2 separate regions of the Homo sapiens genome follow, and region 1 is reported to be linked to region 2. Evidence: microRNA targets listed by miRTarBase, many of them from high-throughput screens and not tested one by one. Region 2 holds a microRNA gene; the other region holds the end of a gene's coding sequence.

What was found. The annotated mature microRNA hsa-miR-196a-3p reads CGGCAACAAGAAACUGCCUGAG and lies in region 2 at 4,550-4,571, opposite strand. An mRNA with a match to its seed (bases 2 to 7 or 8) in the 3' UTR can be bound and repressed. Matches are read on the target gene's strand: a 7mer-m8 pairs with bases 2 to 8, a 7mer-A1 pairs with bases 2 to 7 and ends in A, and an 8mer does both.
Region 1: the mRNA of DOCK7 is a reported target of hsa-miR-196a-3p. The part of its 3' UTR that is shown has no 7-base or 8-base seed match.

Annotation. Positions count from the first base shown.
Region 1 is chr1:62,448,959-62,456,054 of GRCh38, forward strand. It overlaps DOCK7 (dedicator of cytokinesis 7), which reads right to left. Exons shown (of 50, transcript NM_001367561.1): 50 at 5,768-6,498. The coding sequence ends at 6,456. USP1 (ubiquitin specific peptidase 1) reads left to right here. Exons shown (of 9, transcript NM_003368.5): 9 at 1,288-2,846. The coding sequence ends at 2,023. Among named protein-coding and RNA genes, the nearest start is that of USP1, 15 kb to the left of the region's middle.
Region 2 is chr12:53,989,256-53,996,369 of GRCh38, reverse strand. It overlaps MIR196A2 (microRNA 196a-2), which reads right to left and starts at 4,632; the gene lies at 4,523-4,632. It overlaps HOXC10 (homeobox C10), which reads right to left. Exons shown (of 2, transcript NM_017409.4): 2 at 6,091-7,114. The coding sequence ends at 6,924. HOXC-AS2 (HOXC cluster antisense RNA 2) reads left to right here. Exons shown (of 3, transcript NR_047505.1): 2 at 461-537; 3 at 852-1,162. RefSeq lists an enhancer at 585-1,153.

The sequences.
Region 1 (7,096 bases), not on the chromosome of region 2:
TGCAGTCTTGACCTCCCAGGCTCAGGTGGTTCTCCCACCTCAGCCTTCTGAGTAGCTGGGACTACAGGTGCATGCCACCATGCCCAGCTAATTTTTTGTATTTTTAGTAGAGACAGGATTTCACCATGTTGCCCAGTCTGATCTTGAACTTCTGGACTCAAGCAATCCACCTGCCTTAGCCTCACAAAGTGCTGGGATTACAGGCGTGAGCCACCATGCCCGGCCAGTTTCTTTATTCATCTTTTCATATTCATTCCCTCTTAGATGTTAGTAGCAGAATTCAGTAGAACTGACTAAAGCAGGGAACAAATTTTGTATACATCAAGATTTTTTTGAAGGGGCGGGAAAGGCTAAATTCTTCCTAGTTTTAAGGTAAGCCAGGAAATCAAACTAGTCTTTCAACAGTTTGAAAAAAAATGCTGATTGTTTTGGATAGTCTGTTTTTTTCTGACATGTGTAATGTCATTGTATGTGTGACTCCTTTGTACATTAGTTGCTTGTTTGAAATTACCACGAGGGCTTCACAGTAGCTCTCTCACACTTGATTATGTCAAAAGATAACATATAGCCCCTTATTCAGTGGACCTTCCCTTTGCTAATAGTATAAAATACTATTTTATTTACTTTCCCAAATTTTGGTAGAGAAAAACTTCACACTAAAAATGACTAAAATGGGCTGGGCGTGGGTGGCTCACACCTGTAATCCTAGCACTTTGGGAGGCTGAGATGGATGGCTTGCACCCAGGAGTTCAAGACCAGCCTGGGCAACATGACAAAACCCTATCTCTACAAAAAATACACAAACTAGTTTGGCGTGGTGGCGGGCACTTGTGGTCCCAACTACTCAGGAGGCTGAGGAGGAGGAGCCTGAGGTGGGAGGATCACTTGAGTCCAGAAGGAGCCATGATTGCACCACTGCAGTCAGCCTGGGTGACAGACCCTGCCTTAAAAAAAAAAAAACCCAAAACGTAACATTTTTGGTTCCGGTTCAGTCTATTTAAAATACCATTTATTTTCTTAACTGCACAAAATTAGGAAAATAAAGGAAAAAATACAATTATTTCTTCCACAGAAATGCCTGAATATTAGCAGTTATTTATTTTTTTGTTTCTGCATATATTATAAATATTATTCAAAGTTGGGGTCTTGTTTTGATTCTGCTTTTCTGATATATGAACACTGGATATTAAGGGTTCATTCAGATTTTTACTTGGTTTCAGATTGGGGTATAACATTTTGAATTTAAAATAGAACTGCAGGAAACCTTTTCTTTTTTTCCTCCCAAAGGTTTGATTGTTATGGTGGTGGACTTTCCAAGATCAACACTCCTTTATTGACACCTCTTAAATTGTCACTAGAAGAATGGAGCACAAAGCCAACTAACGACAGCTATGGATTATTTGCGGTTGTGATGCATAGTGGCATTACAATTAGTAGTGGGCATTACACTGCTTCTGTTAAAGTCACTGACCTTAACAGTTTAGAACTAGATAAAGGAAATTTTGTGGTTGACCAAATGTGTGAAATAGGTAAGCCAGAACCATTGAATGAGGAGGAAGCAAGGGGTGTGGTTGAGAATTATAATGATGAAGAAGTGTCAATTAGAGTTGGTGGAAATACACAGCCAAGTAAAGTTTTGAACAAAAAAAATGTAGAAGCTATTGGACTTCTTGGAGGACAAAAGAGCAAAGCAGATTATGAGCTATACAACAAAGCCTCTAATCCTGATAAGGTTGCTAGTACAGCGTTTGCTGAAAATAGAAATTCTGAGACTAGTGATACTACTGGGACCCATGAATCTGATAGAAACAAGGAATCCAGTGACCAAACAGGCATTAATATTAGTGGATTTGAGAACAAAATTTCATACGTAGTGCAAAGCTTAAAGGAGTATGAGGGGAAGTGGTTGCTTTTTGATGATTCTGAAGTCAAAGTTACTGAAGAGAAGGACTTTCTGAATTCTCTTTCCCCTTCTACATCTCCTACTTCTACTCCTTACTTGCTATTTTATAAGAAATTATAGAGTGAGTGTATTTTCCTTGTGTATATATTAAACACACCCATACAAACATTGGTAAAGTTGATTACATCAAAGAATCTTTAGCTTATCTTTTGAAGCTACTGGATATTATTGGTCTCTCTAGGTTTTTATATAAATAGTGAAATTTGAATTACTGAAAACCATGTTAATTTTTAGAACTCATTTTCCTCAGTAGAGACTAGTGATGCATTAGCTTCTGGGAACAAACTTGTATCGGTTCTTAATTAAATTATCCAAAACGGAGGCATTTAAACACTTGGATTTACACCAGTCTTTTGTGTTTGCTTTTTAAAATAAAGTGCTCGTATTTGTATTCTCCATATTTTGGAGTAATTATCTACATGATGTTTATAGTTCCTGTGGTTTTTCACCCAAGAAGCAGAATCTCATTCAGTACATTTAGTTTTATAAGAGTCATGAAGCTAAATCCTTGGGCTATGTCAGAGGCACAAAGTCTAGAATGTGTGTATTCACAATGGTGTATGTACATTTTGTGCCTTGATTCACTTAGAAGTGTCTCAGAAAACCTGGACAGTTCGCTTCTACACAAGAATTTTATATGTATTTATGAAGATGATTCTGTACCCTAGTATATCTTTTTGGGCATGGACTAATTTGTATCTGTTTAACTCATATTCTGCACGATCTGTATATAGTACATCAAACTTAGAGGTGTGACCTTAAATTTAACTTTTTTTAAAAACTGGGAGGTCAATAAAATTTAAACTGCTTAACTATGTATATGAATATTTGAATTTTTTACTTGTATATTTTTATAAATACAGCTGAGTTTTCTTAAAGCGAATAAGTGTGTGTATATATATATGTATATATATGAGAGAATAAGCATGCATAATTACCTTTATTACTGAATACTTTCTGACAGTGCAGGAGTTTTTCAAAGAGGAGAAATTGTGCTTAGTCCAGCCAAGCTGTCATACTTAAAAGAGGTTTATAATGAAATCTGTTGCATCTAATTGTCCTTTAAAGTAGACATGATTTAATGGAATCCAAAACTGGAAAAGTTAAGATGATGCTTTGGGCACACATAAAAACTTGGTTAAAATTTCATTTTAAACTAGTATACTGAAGTGGTAAGTGATGAATGATTTCATGACTTGTTAATGGACATTCTTGGTACTAAGTTTTTCCTAGAAATGATTCTAAATATGTAAATGCTATTGGGGTAACACTTTAATACCCCATTTCAACAAGGAGTACCTTCTCAATTAAAAAAAAATCGCAGTAGGCTGGGCGCGGTGGCTCACGCCTGTAATCCCAGCACATTGGGAGGCTGAGGCTGGTGGATCACGAGGTCAGGAGATCGAGATCATCCTGGCTAACACATGAAATCCCGTCTCTACTAAAAATACAAAAAATTAGCCGGGCGTGGTGGCAGGCATCTGTAGTCCCAGCTACTCAGGAGGCGGAGGCAGGAGAATGGCATGAACCCAGGAGGCGGAGCTTGCAGTGAGCCGAGATTGCGCCACTGCACTCCAGCCTGGGCAACAGAGTGAGACTCCGTCTCAAAAAAAAAAAAACACAGTTACATAATGTCTTATATTCTTTCATAGGATGATGAGATGGTAATAAAGTCATGGTTCTCCCCACCTTTCAGAATCACTAATGGAAATCCTTAAACAGTCCTGAGCGCTACCTGTAAGTTTTGAATGGAATGGGTCTAAGATAGACACTGGGCCTCTTAATACTCGAGAGACAGCCAGTTCTAAGAACTAACACAAATTCCTGATGTGAGAAAGTTCCATTTTAAGAAAAATGAAGTTTGTAAGAGGTTTGTATCATACGAATGTTTAAGAGGAAGCCTCTGTTCTGAAGGATGTCAGAAAATAATTGGTTTTGCATAATTATATAAATCATAAAGTCCTTGATATTACTGAGATTTCTGAGATTTTTGTCCAAACTGTTATATAAATGTAACCTAATGAGAAGTGACCCTTCAGTGGTTCCTTATTCTCTCCCTTATGTTTATACCCACCACTGACCCCCAAAGAAGAAGGGAAAATGTCACTTTTTTTGGAGGGGAGGGATTTCCATTCTTGACTCCTTACCTTTCCTTATTGTTCATTTGGCTCCTCAAATAGAGTTTTGAGGTTATGCCCTTCTGACTCAGATTTGGTCTAACAATGTAGACTCATCTGAAAAATGTTTTTGTGATTCAGTCTTTGAATTGATATAGATAAGAGGAATTTGAGATGATACTGCCCATTAAAGTACATGGAGTGTGGGATATCAACCATCACTTAGGCTCTCAGAAGTAGATATTTTTTAGTATATTTTGAATATTTACTACATTGACTATAGAATGAAGGCAATACGTTAAATCTGACCAGTTTTTGTTTTTTTTTTTTGAAACGGAGTCTAGCTCTGTCACCCAGGCTGGAGTGCAGTGGCGTGATCTCAGCTCACTGCAAGCTCCGCCTCCCGGGTTCACGCCATTCTCCTGCCTCAGCCTCCCGAGTAGCTGGGACTACAGGCTCCTGCCCCCTCGCCTGGCTAATTTTTTGTATTTTTAGTAGAGACGGGGTTTGACTGTTAGCCAGGATGGTCTCAATCTCCTGACCTCGTGATCTGTCTGCCTCGGCCTCCCAAAGTGCTGGTTTTTGTTTTTGACTTAAGAGTCTTGCTCTGTCGCCCAGGCTGAAGTGCAGTGGCGCCATTTTGGCTCGCTGCAACCTCCACTTTCCAGGTTCCAGTGATTCTCATGCCTCAGCCACCCAAGTAGTTCGGATTACAGGCACGGGCTACTACACCTGGCTGATTTTTGTGTTTTTGGTAGAGATGGGGTTTCACCATATTGACCAGGCTGTTCTTGAACTCCTGGCCTCATGATCCGCCTGCCCCTGCCTCCCAGAGTGCTGGGATTATAGGCCTGAGCCACTGCACCCAGCCAATCTGATCAGTTCTTTTATATATATGTGTGTGTATGTATGTATGTGTGTGTGCGTGTGTGTACAGATGATAGTTTTTTTTTTTTTTTTTTTTTTGAGACGGAGTCTCTGTCGCCCAGGCTAGAGTTGCAGTGGCTCCATCTCTGCTCACTCCAACCTCTGCTGCCCGGGTTCAAGCGATTCTCCTGCTTCAGTCTCCCAAGTAGCTGGGATTACAGGCTCCTGCCACTGTGCCTGGCTAATTAATTTCTGTATTTTTAGTAGAGACGGGTTTTCACCATCTTGGCCAGGCTGGTCTTGAACTCCTGACTTCGTGATCCACCCGCCTCGGCCTCCCAAAGTGTTGGGATTACAGATGTGAGCCACCGCACCCAGATCTGGTTAGTTCTTAAGTGATTCATGTAACTGGTCAGTAGAAGAAAAGGATTATAAATGATGCCATTCTGTAAACTGCACTACTACCCAAAAACCATTGTTCTAAACTGTTCTGGAAATCATTACTATGCATCGTTTTGGAAAAACTTGCCAAGAATTAAAATGTTACTTCTCAAATTTTTTTTCTGTATGACTTGCATATAATTTTAGATGAATTAAAGCACCTAATTTTACTTTTTATATGCTTCTAAACTTTACAAGTGTCAGAAAATAGGTAATTTCTCAAACTCCAGCTGTGTTACCTTCATGGTGCTACAAGATAGCTTTAAGTAGATTCTAATTTACTGGTTTACATCGTCAAAAACTGATGGCTGGTTTTAATTTGAAACAGAGAAATCATTCATTTTAGTTGCTAAGAATCATGAAGTTCTTACTACTATCATTGGTGTAATAAGATTTAATCAAGTTAAGGTGTTGTCACTGGTATTAGTTATCCCCGTATTTAAATTATTTTACACAAAGGTTTTACTAAGTAAAGTTCTGCAATTCTAAATTCCTGTTTTGGGTATGTAAATGGAAAATAACTTTGAAACAGTTACCAAACTCATTAATTTGGGGCTATCTATGATTTTTATTCTGCTAGGTTTGGAACTAGTTCTTGAGTCAACCCTTTAATTGTTCTCTGCCATTGTCAATAATAAAAATTTTGAAGTCCCACTCGGTAAAATTAGTGTAAACATTCACATATTTAATAGTACCTTTAAAATAAGCATTACTACATTTAAAATGGTTCCAAAATGAATCTATAAATGGTAATATAAATTAAAAAATACGAACTTAAAGTGAATAAATTTTTAACCTTAGCTATGGTATAAATAATGGTAAATGTATAGTGTACCTTTGAGTCATTAAAATGTCTTAAAAGATAACAGCTTGTTACCAGAACATTAGAAACCATAGCCATGATTCTCAAGCGTTAACAATCTACATTTGATATTTTCTTGGCCACTGCATTCTTCAATGAATAATAATTTCCAGAATTCCATTCCATGTTGTTTTCCAATAGATCTTTTCACACTCGATGTTGAATACATGGCTCTTTGCAGATGAATAAAACAAGTGCATTCAGTTTAGAGATCCATTTTGCGAAGGCTCATTCGACTGAAGGAATCTCTGGGAAAAAAATGAGAGGACATAGTTAGTTAAAGAGAACAATTTTTGCATATACCTTTAAATGTCTTACATGGTTTTTTCTGCCAGTTACCTTAAAGTTTTGCCACCATTTCTTACTAACTTCCAAGTTGGATGCTCATCCTACCTACTCTGCCTTATATTTTGGCTTATAGATTTAGCTATAGAAGTGTATTACAGTCACCACTTACTGGTCTTTTGTATTCGTTTGTCTGACTGATGCTGCAGATATTGTAATAAACAAGACAAGGACTTAAGGGATAATGGGAGAGATTTTAGGAAAAGATTTGGGGTTTTTTACACGGCAAAAGGCAGGTGTTTATTAAATTTTAAGTCTTAAACCAGTTCTCAAACTTTGTCTCAGGTCCCTTTTACACTCTTAAAAATTATTGAGAACCCCAGGAATCTTTTATGTGGGCTATATATGGATGTTTATCATATCAGAAATTAAAACTAAGAACATCTTAAGTTACTATAAAATAACCCATTACATGTTACTATAAATAGCATTGCTTATTAAAAATGATCTGCAAGAAGCTTTAGGAGAGTGGTACTCATGTAGGAGTGTGGCTTAATGCCT
Region 2 (7,114 bases):
AGGGGGAGGGGCACCCTTACTCCATCACCTGAAACCTGGGCAGCTGCGGCCACAACCAAACTAGCACCGTGGGAAGGACAGACAGAAAGATAGACAGGTTAGAGTCGTCCCCTCCCCCTGCCCCGCGCCTTCCTTTTAGTGATTTAAATTCCCTCCGGTTCAATCCACACCGTCAAGTTCGGATTAAATTTAAAACAGGCTTTCTCCGGTGTCCCCAGCGGGCCATCCCGGCTGCCGCAGGCAGGGAGCCCGCTCCCGGCTCGTCAGCACCCGCCCTGCGCGGAGAAGGCCGTACTCCATTTGCTTTCATTTTCCTTCTCCCCCTGAAATGGGCTCATTTCACCTCTCCACTGCCCTCTTCCCCTCCCCGCCCCCTCCCTGGTTCCCCTCTACTTTCCCCCCTTCTCTCTCCTGATCCCTCTTTGTTGGGAAAAACACACCCACACACAACTCCTCCTAGCTAAGGCCTGCGCTGGAAGCAGAAACTGAGTTCTCTTGGCCTGCCGCGAGGAAACCCGCGTCCTGCCCCCACCCAAGGTGGGTATCTGGGATCCCTACACACCAGGAGTCAGGTCCCGAGGCCCAGCAGGAGTGAAATCCCCAGGGCCTGTGAACGTGGCTCTCTCAAAGCCACGGCCTGCCGGGCCTGCATTCCCGCCGGCGCCCCCGCCCTGACGCTCCGCAGCAAGCGGGGCTATTTCCGGCTCCCCCAACGCGGTCTGGTTTTCCAGCCTGGGAGTGGCTGGAGGGGGAGCCGCCCCAGAGCTAGAGCCGCTCCCTGCCCTGCCCGGAGCCCCAGTGGCCCTGAGCGCCTTGTTACCTGATCTTTTGTGTGATGTATGTGTCGCAAGGAAATTTGCAGTGACTTTGGAGCCCAGACTGAGGAAGCGGAGGTGGCGAAAGGAGAGACAATACGAGCCCGAAGTACAATTAAGGGGCCAGAGCCGCTCGTCTCTCCCCCGCCCTCCCTGCCCGACTGCGAGCTGTCTGGCCTCAAACCTCAGGGCGACACGCGAACCTGGAGCCGGAAACTCAGCCCGTGGCAGAGGGAGTCAGAGGACTCTGCATCCAGAAAACAGAAGCAAAGCGCCCTTCCAACTTGGGGACGCCTTAACCAGCCCCTCTCAGTTGCAGATAACCCAATGAATGAAAGTGCAAATTCCGCCGTTTTTCCCGATTTTTTTTCCAGCCTTGGGAAGGAGAGCTCAGGGTTTGGGGCGTCTCAGACAGAAAGGCAAACCGCATCTCCTGAGGCAGACAGACCCACAACATGAGTGTGAGCCTGAGATCACATACAGGTTCAACATTTCCCGAGGCCTCTTTGCCAGGCCCGGCGGGCGCCGATCTCCCTACCTTCTCTCCCTCCAGGGCCTCAGGCAGAGAGACCCAGAAGACTCTGTCCCTCTGGTTTGGTCCAATCCCGCTTCGGAAGCGCCTTCGTTACCTGGTCCTTCGCTCCCCACGGCCATAGATACAGGACAGGCGGCTCCCGCCTGGGGAGGGAAGCCCCGGCCACCACGGCCGCCGCCGCCCGCCCTCCTTCCCTCCCTCCCTCCTTCTCGCCCTCCCTCTCTCTCCCTCCCTCGCGCGCTGCCGCTCGCGGGGCCCTCCCGCGGGCAACCTGGTCTGGACCAAATCCAGGTATATCCGAAAGAGAGAAAAAAGAAAGGACCTTTTACGCGGAAAAGAAAAGACAGAAAGACCTTCCATTGCATTTATTTTTCATGCTGTGACCATTGGTCGGCCTCAGTTCAGACGTCCCGGACACGGCCCGGCAGCTGCAGAGGCGTGCAGGGCCTGCAGCCTCTCCCACGCTGACCGCCGCGCCCCGCGCGCCGCTTGCTCCACACTCTGGGCCGCCGCCCCCAGGGCAGCCCAAACACCCAGCAGACCTCAAGGTCCTTTCTATAGACTCAACATGCGGTTGCCCGCCTCGCCGCCGGCCACAGCCCGGGAGCCCGCTCTGCTCTGTCTGCGGCCAAAGTCCATACACAATCCACCTTGCCGGTGCTCTCGCACCCTGCCCGAACACCCCTTCTGGCCACGCAGCCGTCCGGGCCACACTCGTGCTGCGGTCCAGCCCAGGACTTCGAACCTCGCCCCCTGCACGACCCACACAAAGCCCTGAGCCCTGGCGTTCCCACCCGAAGCCCCCAGTCCCCGCTGCCGCCGTCTTCTTCACCTGTTCTCGGGAAGGGCTGCATCTCCGAGCCGAAGTCAGGCCGTGGGCCGGGGCGAGGTCCCAGAGAGGCCACAGCGGATCTGCCAGGCTGAGCCGGAGCCCCAGCAGCCGACGAGAGATCTCAGAGACCAAGGCTCGCCTTGGCGAGCTCTTGCCTTTTCTTCCTCCCGCAAGTCTCAAACATTCATACACTGAGAGTTCAGCTCTATAAATCCTGCTCCTCTTTCCCATATCATAATTAAAAAAAAAACAGTAGGGGAGGTTTTAACTTTTATTGCGATTTCTGGAGTTGGGCTGCGGAGCATATATTAAGTTTACGCTTATGCGCTCTCGGCGGGGAGGGTCCTTTAAGAAATAAAAATCCATCTTAATATCCACAGACGAGAGAGATAATTTTTTCTCTTCTCTTCACGCTGTTCCTTCTGAAGACTCCCTTCCGGCGAAGGGAATAAATAATTACCATCGCCTTAGCCATGATCCACGGCCTTGTGCCGGGGGTGGACTCTGACCACCAGACTGGTCCTCACCTTGGCCCTATGAGACCTCGCTCCATTTCTCTGCATTTGGGGAGGAGACACCTCAACCCCTGGCTCTCTGACCTCCCACACATAAGCCCAACAGCTCTGAAACGGAAATGGGGGCACAGAGACCCAAAGCACAGAAGTCGTTCATTAGTGAATTTCGGCCCATCAGGGACTCTATCTCCAAGCCAAATGCTCCTGAGCACCCAGTCCCTGCCTGGGACACGCTTTGCCCCAACTGACTGTGTGCCTGGGGCAGCCTGAAGACTCAAAGGCTGCTAGGAGCTCCCAAACTAGGGGAATCCCTTGCCTGCTTCCCACCAGCTGGCCTGACTCTCTGGAAACTTCCCCATTTCCCTGGGAGCCATAGAGAGGTTTGAATACTTCTCTCCAAGAGAAGAAATTTTTTCTCTCACAAAGGGATGGGGGACAGACAGACCAACAATCCAGCTAGGGAGACAGGAAATTCTATTCCCATTTTCTCCTCCAGCTTCCTTGGGAGTCAAAACAAATATGTTCGCATAAGAGAGGGGAAAAATAAATGTGTATGCGTATAAATACATACAGGGTATTTAAGAGAGCCTAGGGGAGACAGAAACAGAGCCCTACACTCATACAAGGTCACATATATCCCTCCCAGCAGATGACTGTGAGAATATAGAACTCTGTATATATTTTGTTACAGGGACATAATTTTGTTTCCCTGTCTAGACGTTTATAATGTTTTAATAATCATAATAATTTCAAAGTAAGAGAACCAAGAACCTGACCTTCTTTTGGCTTCTCTTCCCCAGTATCTCTGAGAACAGGGGTGTATCTCCTCAGTCTCCATAACCCCTCCCCCATTTATTCCCCCCCCCCCAACTCCGCCCGCAGGCAGGCAAAGAAACCTCTTTTGAGAACTTTCTCTGTAGCAACCAGGGCCAGAATTGAAGAACCAAGGGGGAAAGGATGAGAGGAAGCTTTGCAAAGTTTCACACTGCTCAGATTTTCCTCTACCCCATTCTCCTCCCCTCCTCCCCCTGGCATCAGCCAACAACCTTTCCACCAACATAGCAATGGTGGGCACGGGCAGCCTCTGTTCACCCAGATGTTTCCACATAGTGCAAAGACAGGCAGCTGCCTGACAGTCACAGCCACAGAAACTGAGGCCTTCAGGCCACAGACGACTAAACAGAGACCAGAGTCAGGTTTTTGCCCTGATGTTTCCCAGTTGCGTGCGTGTGCGTGTGTGAGGGGTTCTACTTGGACTTTGATGGCTTTCCTCTAACCTACCAACACCCCAAACATGTCCTTCCCCTGGAGATGGAGCTATAGAAGGGGAAGGGGAAAGGGCTGGGCTGGCGCTCAGAGTTCCCCAACTCTTGGAACCTCCAGGTACCCCACTTTTCTAAGGAGAATCTTGAGCCCCAGTCGACTGGAGGTGGTAGGTGGGAGAGGCTAACCATTCCAGAGACCGTCTTCTCTTTCTGTGCTCCTCTTTCTGCTAATAATTCTGCCCCACCCTGCTGCCCAACTGAGCTGGCCCGCCAGGCCACCTCTTACTCAAACTCCTGAATTTCCTTGGAATTGGCTGGACCCTCTTTGTCTGTCTCCATCAGCTGGGCCCAGGAGACAATAGCTGCAGGAAAGACTCCTCTCCCTTAATCACAGGGATTGGGATAGGTTGAGAGGACGGCATAAAGCAGGGTTCTCCAGACTTGTTCTGCAACCCCACTCACAGCTTGTCCTCCTTGGTCTGCACCCACTTTGCCCTATCTGGGAGGGGGCAGTGGGGCAGTCCCACTGGGGAGGGTAGGAGTGGGAGAGGTGGGTTGGGGCCCTCGACGAAAACCGACTGATGTAACTCAGGCAGTTTCTTGTTGCCGAGTTCAAAACTCAATCCCAACAACATGAAACTACCTAAGCCACAGATCAGCTGAGCGAGCAGGGCGGGAGATTCAGCTTTGCATCTATCTGGAGGAGAAGGGAAGGGGGTTGGGGAAGGAAGAAATTCAGCCCCGTCCCCCTTTCCGCCCCCACAACCTCCCTAAGGACTAGAGAGTAGACTTTGGGTTGCTGGGTGGGTAAGGGGTCTGACTGCCTTCATTAGTTTCTGGTCTAAGCAAATTGCTCAGGAAAAATCTGGTGAAATGGGACCACTGGCGGCCAAATACCTGCCCCACCCCCAGCACCGCAGTGGAGCTATTCCCCTGCATCTGGCCCTGGCCCTGGGGGAAGCTGGATCTTCCTTCCACTCTGGAGCTGGGTCCCCTGTCTTGTCCATCTGGCTCTCCTGCACTCTCCTGCTAGACTCCCTCTGATCCTCTCCCTCTCAGCTCGGTTTAGGCTTCTCAGCGAATGTGGGTAGCTGAATCATAGCCCTGTGCTCTGGAGCCACTTCCAATCAGGCCACTTGCCTGGCAAAACGTTACAGCCAGGGAGCACAGGGAACAAGAGGCTGGACGAGGCTCACATCCAAACCAGCGAAAAGCAGGAAAACCTAAGCTTCAAGCTTCAACCCTCTGTACTCCTCCTCCCCCACCAACAGACGACCAGACTGAGCAACACCTAGACCAGAGTGTCGACTTCGAGGAGACCCAAAGTGCCCGAAAAGATAAAGAAGCCAAAAACCATCAATTTATCCCTTTAACTGTGGAACCCCCATGGCAATGGGCCCGGGAGGGAAGGAGAGGGAGCTCCCAGTCGCTGCCCTCCGCTGCCAGCGGCCACTAGGAAAGCCTGGGTTCTCGGCAAGCACGGATGCCCTAAACACCTTCCTCCAGGCTCTGTCCGCTGCACGCCGGACACCTGGGGACACCGCTCATCCCCACTCCGCCGCCAAGAGAAGAACAAGAAACCGCTTCTCTTACCTTGTCGCTGCCTCCTCCTCCTGCTGCTCCTGGCGTTTCTGTTAGCTGCTGTCGAGGTTGGGGGGGCTGAGCTCCTCATGCCCCTCCAGCGGTTAAGTTTATTCCTTTCCTTGGATGGGTGGGGGGCTCTTGGGGTGACCCCCAGCAGCAGTGGGGTGCGCCCAGCCCAGCACCCCAGGCAATCAGATCCGTCTGCTCCTCAAGATTGCAGCTTGCTCTCTGCCTCTTTCCCTCCTCCAGTCACCTTTAAATGCATCTTTTACTGCAGCACCACATTATATTTGCAGATCATAAAATCCACCTCTCGCGCGCACCAAGACCGTCCTGACATTACTGTTTTATGACCTTGACTTATTGTGGTCACCTGGATAATATTTAAATCAACGTTATGGTCTCTCACTTACATTAAACCCGCCAAGAGACGTTCTAGAAAGGCTCTAGGAGATGAGTCAAACACAAAACACACACATCCACACACTCAGCCTCTTCGGGGGAGGGGTGTTGCTAAAAATCACTAAAAACAAAAAACCATCCATTTGAGGATTATGATTCTGGAAATTTATTAGGTTTTTTTTTCTCCATTAAGGAAGCTACATGCAAAAGATACAACATACAGAATATCTTTAAATAACACAACTCCCAGACAGGGACAGGACAATATTTGGGGGGGGGGGCATTCTGTCTTTGCTTTGCTATGTTCTATTTTTAATTTTTTTGTTCCTCTGGATGAAATTTCTGAGATGTTACTAGATGGGGGATGTGGGGGTGCTAGGAGGGGTGGGAGAAAAGCAGAAAGCAGTACAAATACGAGACTTCAAGCAGATTCTTAGAGCGACTGGGAGGTAAAGACATGGAGAGGGTTTGGTGGAGGCTCTGGGTGCTACGACAAACACACGAACACTAGCCGAACTTTCCAAAACGTCTATTAGTCTAAGGAGGAAATGCAGCAAGGAAGGAACGATTCTGCCTGTGCTCTGCGAGATTACAGACCCTCTCTGGTTAATTTTTTTCCTTTTTTTCCCCTACAAGCGGATGGATTCGATCTTAACTTTGCATGGAGAACAGAATGCTGTGTGTGAGTGCGTGGGTGAGTGAGGGCTTGACACACACACCAGCCACACTCCCACCCCCATCTATGAGGGCACACACCACACCCCACATCCCGGCACCCCATTTCTCATGCTTTAAGTGGAAGCATCTTCGCAGCACGAACCACAGGTCCCTTGGAAGGAGAGTCTGAGGTCTTTGCCTTTTTTGCAGTCGCATTGCATTTATACTCAGGGAGGAAAAAAAAATATATCACCAGGCACAAAGGGAGGAGGGGCGGGGAGAGGAAGGAGCGGGAAGGGAGGAGGAGAGGCCGCGCTCTCAGGTGAAATTAAAATTGGAGGTCAGTTCCCGGATCCGATTCTCTCGGTTCATTTTCTTGAGTTTCATTCTGCGATTTTGAAACCAGATTTTGACTTGTCTGTCTGTAAGGTTAATGGTCTTGCTAATCTCCAGGCGGCGCTCTCGCGTCAAATACATATTGAACAGAAATTCTTTCTCCAATTCCAGCG